Regions from separate parts of the Homo sapiens genome. Here region 1 is linked to region 2. A link means that fine-mapping ties the variant in region 2 to the expression of a gene that starts in the linked region. Tissue or cell type: whole blood. Region 2 holds a variant in brackets; the other region holds the start of a gene. All regions are shown on one strand. Distances are between the middles of the regions.

Region 1 (5,000 bases), 250 kb after region 2:
CTCCAGTCACAACCTGCTTGAGTAGATCTGTTTTACTGGCACTTAATCAGGACCTTTAATTCAAAAATATCTCCAAATTATAAAGAGATTATACCATGTGCCCAACGCACCATGTAATATACTATCCTCTAAATGTAAGATATTACACTGTGTGCCCAATTTACCATTTTTTTTGAACAACTCTTGTCAACTGCAGCAAAATAGGATTAAATGAAATAACGTATGTAAAATGCCTAAAAAACCAGCACATAGAAGGTATTTAATATATACAGTTTTTTCTTCTTTCCTCTGATATAGTTTATATTCAGGTGACAAAAATATTACATTCACATAAAATAAAGGAAAATGATTTTTCTTACAAAATTATGTGTCCCACTACAATAATTATTATTTAAATGGCAAACTTTGCCAATGTATTTACTATGGAAGCAGTTTGCCATAATTTACATTTACCTGCAATGTTCAGGAATATACCTATTATGTGAAGCAGGCTGGACCTCTATGACAATCACTAACATTTTCATTACACCATCACTAACTGCATTTTCTCATTCCAATATCGAGTTTTAAGTCAAACAATGGCCACATTTATTTTATTTTAATTGCAAAACCTTACCCCCACTCCCAACCAAGTCATTCTCTTATTTCTGGAATTATCTCATTATGAAGAACTCACGCAAAAACCTGCAGTTGTGCTAAACGTTAGGTTTGGATCAGATGTCATACATATAACTCTTAGCTGTTGCTCGTAAAATGCATAGTGACTTGGTTTCTAATTTTTGGTTCATGACAATTATTGCATAGGTAAAATAGTTGTGACAGTTTGATAAATAGTTAGAAAACGACTAATAGACAACCTAATAAGTCTAATGCATTTATGATGTGTATGAAAGAACAACCTCCTACAGTAAAAACATATAACTGAGCTTATTATTTACCATACTTTAAAATTAATGATTATTGATAATTTAAGAAAAAATGTTAAAACATATTAAATATATTTTAAGGTCTTACTTAGGCATTCTGTTGCTGTTTCTCCCTGAATTTTTTTTATATTTTTCATTAAGATAAATGAAAATATGGAGTATTTAAAAGTAATGCTGTTCTTAATCCATTGGTCCTGTTCCATTATATTCTTTTTAGGCATTCATAATTAATGGTGCATATAAGCAAGAAGTGACTCTATAATAAGAAAACCTTTGGATCCATTAACCTGGCATCCATTTCTAGGGAAGGTATCACTGTGGTCCTGAAAGGATAGCTCCAAGTCACCTGTCGACATTCTTGAGTTTGCTTTGCGGAGAGAGGAAAAGACTAACAACAGAACTAAAGTAGATCCACTGAAGACATGAGTGATAGACAATCACTTCAGAACTTCACATCGCCGTCCAAGAAAACATCTAGCTGACATTTCTTCAAAAAAATTTATGTACAGTATAGTTGTCAAACTGATTTTTCAAAAGCAACTCCTTTGCTTTTCATTTTTCTCAAAGTAAAACCTCAGGGTAGCACATTCCAAAGAAGATACGAAAAAGTTTATTATTATATATTTTTCCACCATTAAATCTAGGGGTAATATCATCTGTAAATATAGTGGAGAAAGTCTGGAGACTTTTTAAAAGGAATTGTAAAGATGTTGATAGGAGTTGGGGAGAGGAATCCTTACCAAGCTCTCTACCTGACACTCCTTATTCAAAGAAAATTCTGCCCTAACGTAGCCCTGGCAGTCCATTTGTGTCCAGGGAGCTCAGTCCCCCTCCACTCTCCAGTGTATAATTCCAGCAGTAAGGAAAATTAAGACAAAGCATTCTGTGCGAGGGAGGGCGGAAAGGTTAAGCAGCGTTGGGGTGCAGTGGAAACCAGAAAAGAAAGTGACCTCATTTTGCCTGAGAAAGCACGATCCAACAAGCCCACCTTTGATGTGGATTTCAGCAGCGATAAAAGAGCACAAAGGGCGAAAGCCGGAGGGAGCAAACTTCCCTTATTCTTCCCCCCGCCCCCTACCTCTCAAGACCACCAGGAACACGCACACGCGAGGACAACAAAGCGTGCGCCCAGGCTGCACGGCAGGCGCTTCCCGCGGCTGGGCCATCGTGCCCTGGGGCGCGCCGCTCCCAACGGCAGAGCGAGGGCGCCGGAGCGCGGCTGCCGCCCGGACCGCTGGGAAAAAGGGGTGGAGGAGCTCCCCTACCTTGAACAGCACAAAGAGCCAGAGCAGAGGCAGGAGGCGGCGGGCGCCGTGTATCCCCGTGGGCAGGTGCCCCATCGCTGCGCGGACGGGGACTCGGGGGCACGGCTGCGCTAGCGGACTCCCCCGGCGGCGGCTCACAATGGCGAACTGGGGCTGCAGCCTCAGACCCTGGGCGCCGAGGTTGCTCCTGGCGAGCGCATGCTGCCTTTCCAGTCCCCCTGCGCCTGCTCCCTTTCCTCCTCTGCGCCCGGGGTCCTCCAAGAACGTGCCAGGCGCTGCTGTTCTTTAATGACTAAGGATGGAGAGGGTGGGGATTGGAGTGGGCGAGGCTCTGCCGCCGCCACCACCGCGGCTGCCAGAGGAGGCGCGGGGTCTGTGTGGTGAGCGAGAGGCGGGGACCCCGCGCCCAGCCCGCCGTAGTCCTCTGGCAGCAGGGACACTCTCACTCTGGCTGCCGACCCATAAAATGACAGCAGCCTCCCAACCCTCCACCAGGATCGGCCCGCTGCTTGCTACTGCTGGACAGCCCCCATTGCAGACTCCGCCTCAACCCCTCCCTCAATCTCTGGGTCTCAGGAGTTCTGAGGGGTTTCCCTGACCTCTCTTGAGCAATCCAGGCGCCAGATCCCAGTTCCCTCTCAATCTTCCTACATCTGTACTCAATTGCAGTTATAAAGGATCAATAACAGTTGGGTAGTTGTGACTGTAGAAATAGTGTGTAGTGTGAGTGTGTGAGTGTGTGTGATAGGAAGGGTATTTTCTCTCCTTCCCCACTGCTTCCATTATCTCCATCCCATTTCAACACTCTCACCGTCTCCGTCCCACACTCACCCAGGAACAAATAGCACAATTATGCACCTTTTCCATTTGAAATCCGCAGTTCTTGTACATTTCAGATTCTCTTTTGATACCAAAGTGTGTCGGGTCACCTGAAGCTGAATATAGAAGGGGGAAAAATCACAGTATTTTACATGTATGACCCTTGAACAACACGGGTTTGAACTGTTGGGTCCAGTTATATGCAGATTTTCTTCCACCTTTGCCAGCCTTGAGACAGCAAGACCAAACCCTCTTCCTCCTCCTCTGCCTGCTCAGCCTGAAAAGGATGACGTTAAAGACTTTTATGATAATTCACTTCCACTCAATGAATATAAATGTATTTTCTCCTCTTTATGGTTTTCTTAATAATATTTTCTGTTCTCTAGCGTACTTTATTGTAAGAATACAGTATACAATACATACAACACAAAATGTGTGTTAATCAACTGTTTATTATGTTATCAGTAAGGTTTCCGGTCAAGAGTAGGCTATTAGTAGTTAAGGTTTTGATGAGTTCAAAGTTATATGTGGATTTTCAACTACGTGATTCTCTGTGTTGTCCAAGTGTCAACGGTATGTACAGTTATATTTTTAAACAATTATCTGTGAATAATTTTACTGGGATGTTTTAGAATCACAAGCAACGACTTTCAAGCTGTGGGTCCCCAATCTACTACTTGTCTCCTTTTTTGTTATGTGTATTTTTTTAAAGATAAGTCTGTCGAAATCAACTCTGGTATGCACTGTTCAGATAGAAATCATTTCTTATTGTCATGTAAATTACCCTTGCTGTGCCCTGTCAGTATTGGAACTTATTTATACCTGAGACATGCTTGGGCAACAGGAGACAGGAAAGGCCACCCTGGTCATGAATGTAGGTGTTCAGGCATAGACTTTGTCAGTCACACAGCTAGGGAGTGGTGGCCTGAGAAAAGGATCCAGAGCTGTGTTTACTCAGCTTTTGCTGCATGAGCAATGGCCAAACACTAATCATTTGGTTGTTGTTTGTATGTGTCTTAAGGAAGCTTTAGATTGAATATGTTTACATAAGTGTGAATATGTATATATACACATGTGTACATGTACACATATGTGTACATGTACATATGTGTACACACATGTGTGTGCATGTACATATGTGTACACATATGTGTGTGCATGTACATATGTGTGTACACATATGTGTATGTGTGTACATAGATACATATGTGTATGCATACGTATATGTATATGTACGCATATGTATATGCATGGTACATATATGTATATATGTACCAAATTTCATATGCATGAAATATGTACCAAAATTCATATGCATGAAAATATAGAATGATGGTCTGAATTTTTGTGAGAATATTATCCTTGGTGTCTTCTTTTAGAAGCTTCTTTTGTTTTCACATTCCCATCACATGCTCTCTTCAGGTCCCTCATGTCCACTCATCATTGGTTTGGACATTTTCTTTCTTTTGAGAAAATGTTAACTGCTCCTCCCTCCCTCTGGGTTAGACTTACGGGCTATCTGAACATTTAATCCTTGGGATTGCACTTATAGGAACTTTGGTTTAATATGTTTTCTTTTTATTTTGACGCTCCTGAAGCAGCATTTTATTCCCACTCGCCCTCAGAAGTGGCTGTAAAGTGATCTAATCTCTAGAACATAAGATATATATAGGCCAAGGGCAACAATCACACTCACAGGATGCCAACAATTTCTCTTTGGAGTAGCATTTAATTTTAAAATGTGTCTGTGAATTATGGGTCTGTATGATGATATTCATTTGTGTGTATGCATATGTCTGTGTGTATACATGGATATAGCCTTGCCTGATGTGCGTAGGGCGTTTAAAGCAGTTCTGATCATAAATTAATCTTGTAAATGCTAAAAGAACTTTCACAATGAGGCTCCCTTTTAAATAATCATATTCTGCTGCGTCTTTCTGTTTTTCTCTTAGTCATACATCACAATTTGTTCAGCTCTTTCTGTCTTTGT
Region 2 (5,268 bases):
ACATTGTGGTCTATATGAACGGTGTTCACTGGAGTTGTACAATGTGCAACCAATGCAGTGGATCTAGTTATATTCCTATACAAATGTTAGAGGAATGTTAGTAAACAGTGTACATAACTGTGTATAAGTGGGATTACCCACATAGTGTGCATCTTTCTATAAGACTACTAAGCGAGGCAAAAATCACTTGTTATAAATTTTATTTACATTTATAGAATGTTAATATTGAGCACAAGTTTTACTCTTCATAATTCCTCCCAATTATTACTTCAAGGAATCAAAGCTGGAGGAATACTTCCCTAGGAGAAGAATTTCGGAGGGTCTTTTAACACTGTTGAAGAGAATTGGAGCCACTTGACCACGTTCTAGGATTGAATAGGGATATCTGTTTCATGCCCTTTGTGTCTTTATTCAAGTGCTCTTTGCAAAGCACATGCTTTATTAATCAAGTTATTGGGTCTTCTGATGCTTTTAACTAGAAGATCCTTGGTGGCAAATTACCTTGCGCTTAATGGCATTGGGTTGCCTGACTGTAGCCAACATGGATGAACCAACAAAAATTGCCCAGATTTCTCTCTTCCTTTGATTCCTCATCTCTTTTGGCTTTTCAAGATGACAATATCTGAAGTTCTTTGGACTAAGTTGATGTCAGTTTTATATACAAACTATGTTACATTTGATTTTCAACTCACAAAATTGGTTTTTTCCATCTCAGGCACTTACTTGCCAAATATATTTAGGCAGATGCTTCCCATTGTTATTTTATAACTGAGTGTTCCATTTTAAAGGGTATTCAAAGGTTGACTCTATTTTTCTTGTAAGAAGCAACTTATTTTTAGTAAATTTCAACTAAATCAGTGTGATGTTTAGGTTAGTTCCTTTTGGTAGTTATAAGTTTATTTAAATGATGCTTCCATTGCTTAAATTATTTCAGAAATCTACCTCCTTTAGAAAATGCCTGCATAGATATTTTTTCAAAATATCTCACATATTCTGACATGCCACTTATAAACTGTATGTTCTTGGAAGGGTAGTTAAACTCTTTTAAACTTTGCTTTAATTACCTGTAAGATAAGGCTAGTAATTTCTCCACACCTTCCTTTTTTATAGTGATTATCAAATGGAATAATTTAACTCAACAAATACTAATACAGCACTATTGATGATCATTGTAAAATACTTTTGTGATGATTCTTTGTTTTGCTTTGCCTGGCTCCATAATTTCTTCCTCCTCTGCCATTTATGCCAGCAGACCAACAACTCTTCCCCCAATTCTCTTGCTTTGGGGACAGACTGATAAGCCATGGGAAAAGGCCTCAGATACAAAAGGAATGGTGGAAACAGATTGAGGCTGAGCGTTTGAGCACATGTGGAAGCTGACTAACTGACAGAACTTTAATTGTGGAAGCTGACTAACTGACAGAACTTTAATTGTGTGTTGCCTTCCTGCTGTAAATACTCTAAGTTGATAAGAGAGGTTTAATTGGCTGAACACTGTAAGTGGAAGTTGCCAAAGTTGAATTGCAGCAAAGTGGGAACTGCATGTAAACACAGTATGCTTTGAAGCCTTTGTAATTTAGCCTGTCACTAAGTGGAAAATAAAATATTAAGTTTCCAGTTCAGCAGCTTTGAAGTTATTTTCTTTCCAACCATATGGAAATTCCACTGGCTTAAATCTTTATGAAGACAAACTATGGAGTGATGGACCTGAAACCCACATAAATCATTTCTGAATTTTCTTTTGTCAGTTTTGTTTCTAAATATAATTTATCACCCTTTTCTTCTAGGCTATACAGTCATCTGTAGTGGGTTGAATGGTGATCCCCAAAAAGATACGTCTACCTCCTAACCCCCAGAACCTGTGAGTGTGATCTAATTTGGAGAAAGTGTCTTTGCAGTTGTAATTAAGTTAGAGAACATGAGATGAGATCATCCTGGAGAAGAGGAAAAGGCATGTAAAGATGGAGACAGATCAGAGTTATGCAGCTGCAAGCCAAGGAATTGCTGTGGCCAACAGAAGCTGAAAGAGGCAAAGAAAAATTCTTCCCTAGAGTCTTCAGGGGGAGTGTGGCCCTGCTGACACCTTGATTTTGGAATTCTGGCTCTGCAATTGTGAGAATAAGTTTCTGTTGTTTTAAACCACGACAATTGTGGTAATTTGTTATGGCAGCCATAGGAACTAATACGGTCACCCAAACCCAGTAGCAGGCTACGTTTTGTTGGCTGTGTTTGAAGCATACAGGTCTTGGAAAGCAAAGCACAAGCATATACATTACATTAGTTGGCTTGGGCTGCCATAACAAAACACCATAGAGTGATAGTTTAAACAGTAGAGATTTATGTCTCACAGTTCTGGAGGCTGGGAAGTCCAAGATCAAGATGGCAACAAGGTAGATTTCATTCTTAGGCATCTTATCTTGGCTGATCCTGAGACAGTCAGGTGGGAGGGGGTCCTTGGAGAAATTCCAACTAGCCTGCTCACAGAGGTGGAGCCTCGGGAAGTTCACCATGTTTGCAGTGGGGAAGGA[A/G]CCTGGCCTCTCCTCTTCCTGTGTGGAACCTGAGATTCAAGCTGCCAGTGGGAAGTGCTCTAGCAGGGACTCCAGCCTAGTGAGAGTCCCTGTTTCTCCCTTTTCTTCCTTTTCACCGAATAAAACCCTGTTTTACTCACCCTCCAAATTGCCTGTGAACCTAAATTTTCATGGCTGTGGGATGGACAAGGACCTCATCTTTAGCTGAACTAAGGAAAAGTCCTGCAACAATCCTACCACGAAGTCCTCACCCTCATGAGCTTATCTAATCCTAATTACTTAGCAAGGGCTCCATCTCCAAATACCATTGCATTGGGGGTTAGGGATTAAACATAGGAATTTTGGGGGGCCACAGATATTCAGCCCATAACCTGCAATATCATCTTCTGAGGAGAGCACAATCTGCATTCTGGTCTTAGGGTTTGTAACAATGTCAGCAGGTGAGAGTTTGCTTTCGGTGTTTGCTTTGGGATAGGGTGGACATTATGTCTTGAAACCCAAGCATAACTATTACTGTTTCTGAATCGCATGATTACAAAAAATCCAACAAGTCATTTTCCAGTAAACACATTATTTTAGTTGTGAGTGACAAAAACATAGCTCAAACTAGTTTAGACTAAAGGAAAGGGGGTTTATTCAAACAATACTAAGATTACTAGATTACGTGTCCATAAGGGGTGGAAAAAGTGAGGAGAAAGAAAGTGCCAGTGGTGTTGACAGAAGAGGTTCCATCTATAGCAAGTAAAAGCTACTACCAGAAATCAAAGGTCACCTCTTGTGAACTGCATGGCCAGTTCTGTAGTTTTGTTTTGATCTTTGCAGCCACATGTCTGAACAGAGATGGTGAGGGCCTTTACTAGTATCCTGATCAAACACTAAGCACAGACATTAATAGCAGAATGAGCAATATGTGATATGTCTTCTGGGCTCTCACATTTCAGCTATAAAGTCTGGTTCTTCAAAATCTTTCCCATGTGAAATGTAAAAAATGAGGAACCTATTTTAATCCCTGGGTCCCAAGACTTTTAAAGGAACGGTGTATATTTTTATCAGAAGGATAATCAATCTTTCTAGCAGATTTAAAATCAGATTCAGAGTAAAAAAGAAATTTATTCAGTAAACACAAATTAGTAACTCATATAGCTTCATGTATGACTTATGGCTGTATTGGTAGTATCTATAAATCCAGACATTAGTTTCAATCTGCAAAATGCTTATAAATGATGTGATTTCTCAATGTGAATGTGATATTTCAATGTCAGTATCAAAATGAATACAAATACTAGGCATTAATATAAACAGAACAAGTACAAGTTCAGCTGCTGGAATTATCTAGACCAAGGTGATTTGGCCATCTCATACCCTCTTGAATTCTCATTAGAGTTAGGAACATTTTTTTCCTTAAGTCTCAATTAACTATCAATGTATTTCAAAAAAATGTGAGGGCTGCCATGTGAAAGGTCCAGCATACATCCTGAAATCAGGCATGGGAGCACACTACTTCTATGAAAATTGATGAGGAAACCCTGACGCTGACCCTGAGGATGTAGGGGGCAGAATGGGACTGAGGACTGGTAATATCTGAAGTCTGTCAAATGAAGAAGGAAGTAAATTGGACCAGCGGGCCACTGCTTGAGCAAATGTTAGTCCAAAACATACAGTCTAAGCCTGTGACTTAAAACAGAGCCCTAGAGAGTAAGTTGTATTTTCCTACCAGAATATGTAAATAATGTCAGGACTTACCACCCAATTAATTACATATATGACCAATAATGTTCTAAGAATAGAAATGTATGAAGAGAGCATCAGAATAAATAACAATATTAAAGACTTTAAAATCGTGGTGTAATGGTTAATTTTAGACGTCAACTTGACTAGGCTATAGTGTCCAGTTGCTTGGCCAAACACCAGTCTGCTGCTGTGAAGGTGTTTTTCTCATATGTGATTAACATTTACGTAAGTAGAGTTTGAGGAAGGCTGATTATGCTACGTAATGTGGCTGGGCCTCATCCAGTCAGTTTGAAGGCCTGATGAGAAGAGACAGGTCCTACAAGGAGGGAGGAATTCTGCCTCCCCATTGCCTTCAAACTCAAAACTGCAAACTCAACTTTTCCTTGGATCTCCAGCCTGCCAGCCTGCCCTTCAGGTTTCAGACTTGTCAGCCTCCATAACCTCAAAAGCCAATACCTTAAAATAGATCTCTCTATATATACATCATATTTGTTCTATATAAACATCCCATTGGTTTCTCTGGAGAACCCATGACTAATACACATGGGTTATAAAGCTTGATTGTAGCCTCATCCCATATTTAACCCATATTTCTCAATCAAACACTTTCGGCCTAGGACAATTCTCTATTGTGCGGGAATGTCCCACTCATTGAAGAGCATTTAACGCCTCGTCCCTCTTCCATAAAATACTGTTAGCATCCTCCTCCTAAGCTATTATAACAACCAAAAACACTCCCACACATTTTCAAATTTCATCTGGGGGCTGACTGGTACTTGTCCAGTTGAGAACCATTGATCTAGTTCAACTCACCCATTTTATACATAAAGAAACTAAGGTGATGAGAAAATGTACTTAAAAAAAAGCAGAACATGATTATTTTTTAAATACACAACTTCTGTACAAACTCCAAATAAAACCCCAATGTAAAAAAATGAGAAAAAAATGGTATTTCATTTTCAGCCCTTCACAAAATGTTAACCTCTTTAATCATAAATCAGCTGTTAGA

The links. PIP is the estimated chance that this variant, and not a neighbour inherited with it, causes the effect.
Region 1: PTPRO starts here. The variant in region 2 is fine-mapped to the expression of PTPRO in whole blood (TOPMed, PIP above 0.99).

Annotation. Positions count from the first base shown.
Region 1 is chr12:15,319,993-15,324,992 of GRCh38, reverse strand. It overlaps PTPRO (protein tyrosine phosphatase receptor type O), which reads right to left and starts at 2,485. Exons shown (of 27, transcript NM_030667.3): 1 at 2,192-2,485. The coding sequence starts at 2,266. The region is part of intron 2 of LOC105369673 (a long non-coding RNA gene); the gene reads left to right.
Region 2 is chr12:15,572,572-15,577,839 of GRCh38, reverse strand. All of the region lies in intron 19 of PTPRO (protein tyrosine phosphatase receptor type O), which reads right to left. Among named protein-coding and RNA genes, the nearest start is that of EPS8, 210 kb to the left of the region's middle. The variant A/G (reference allele first, on the strand shown) is at 2,529.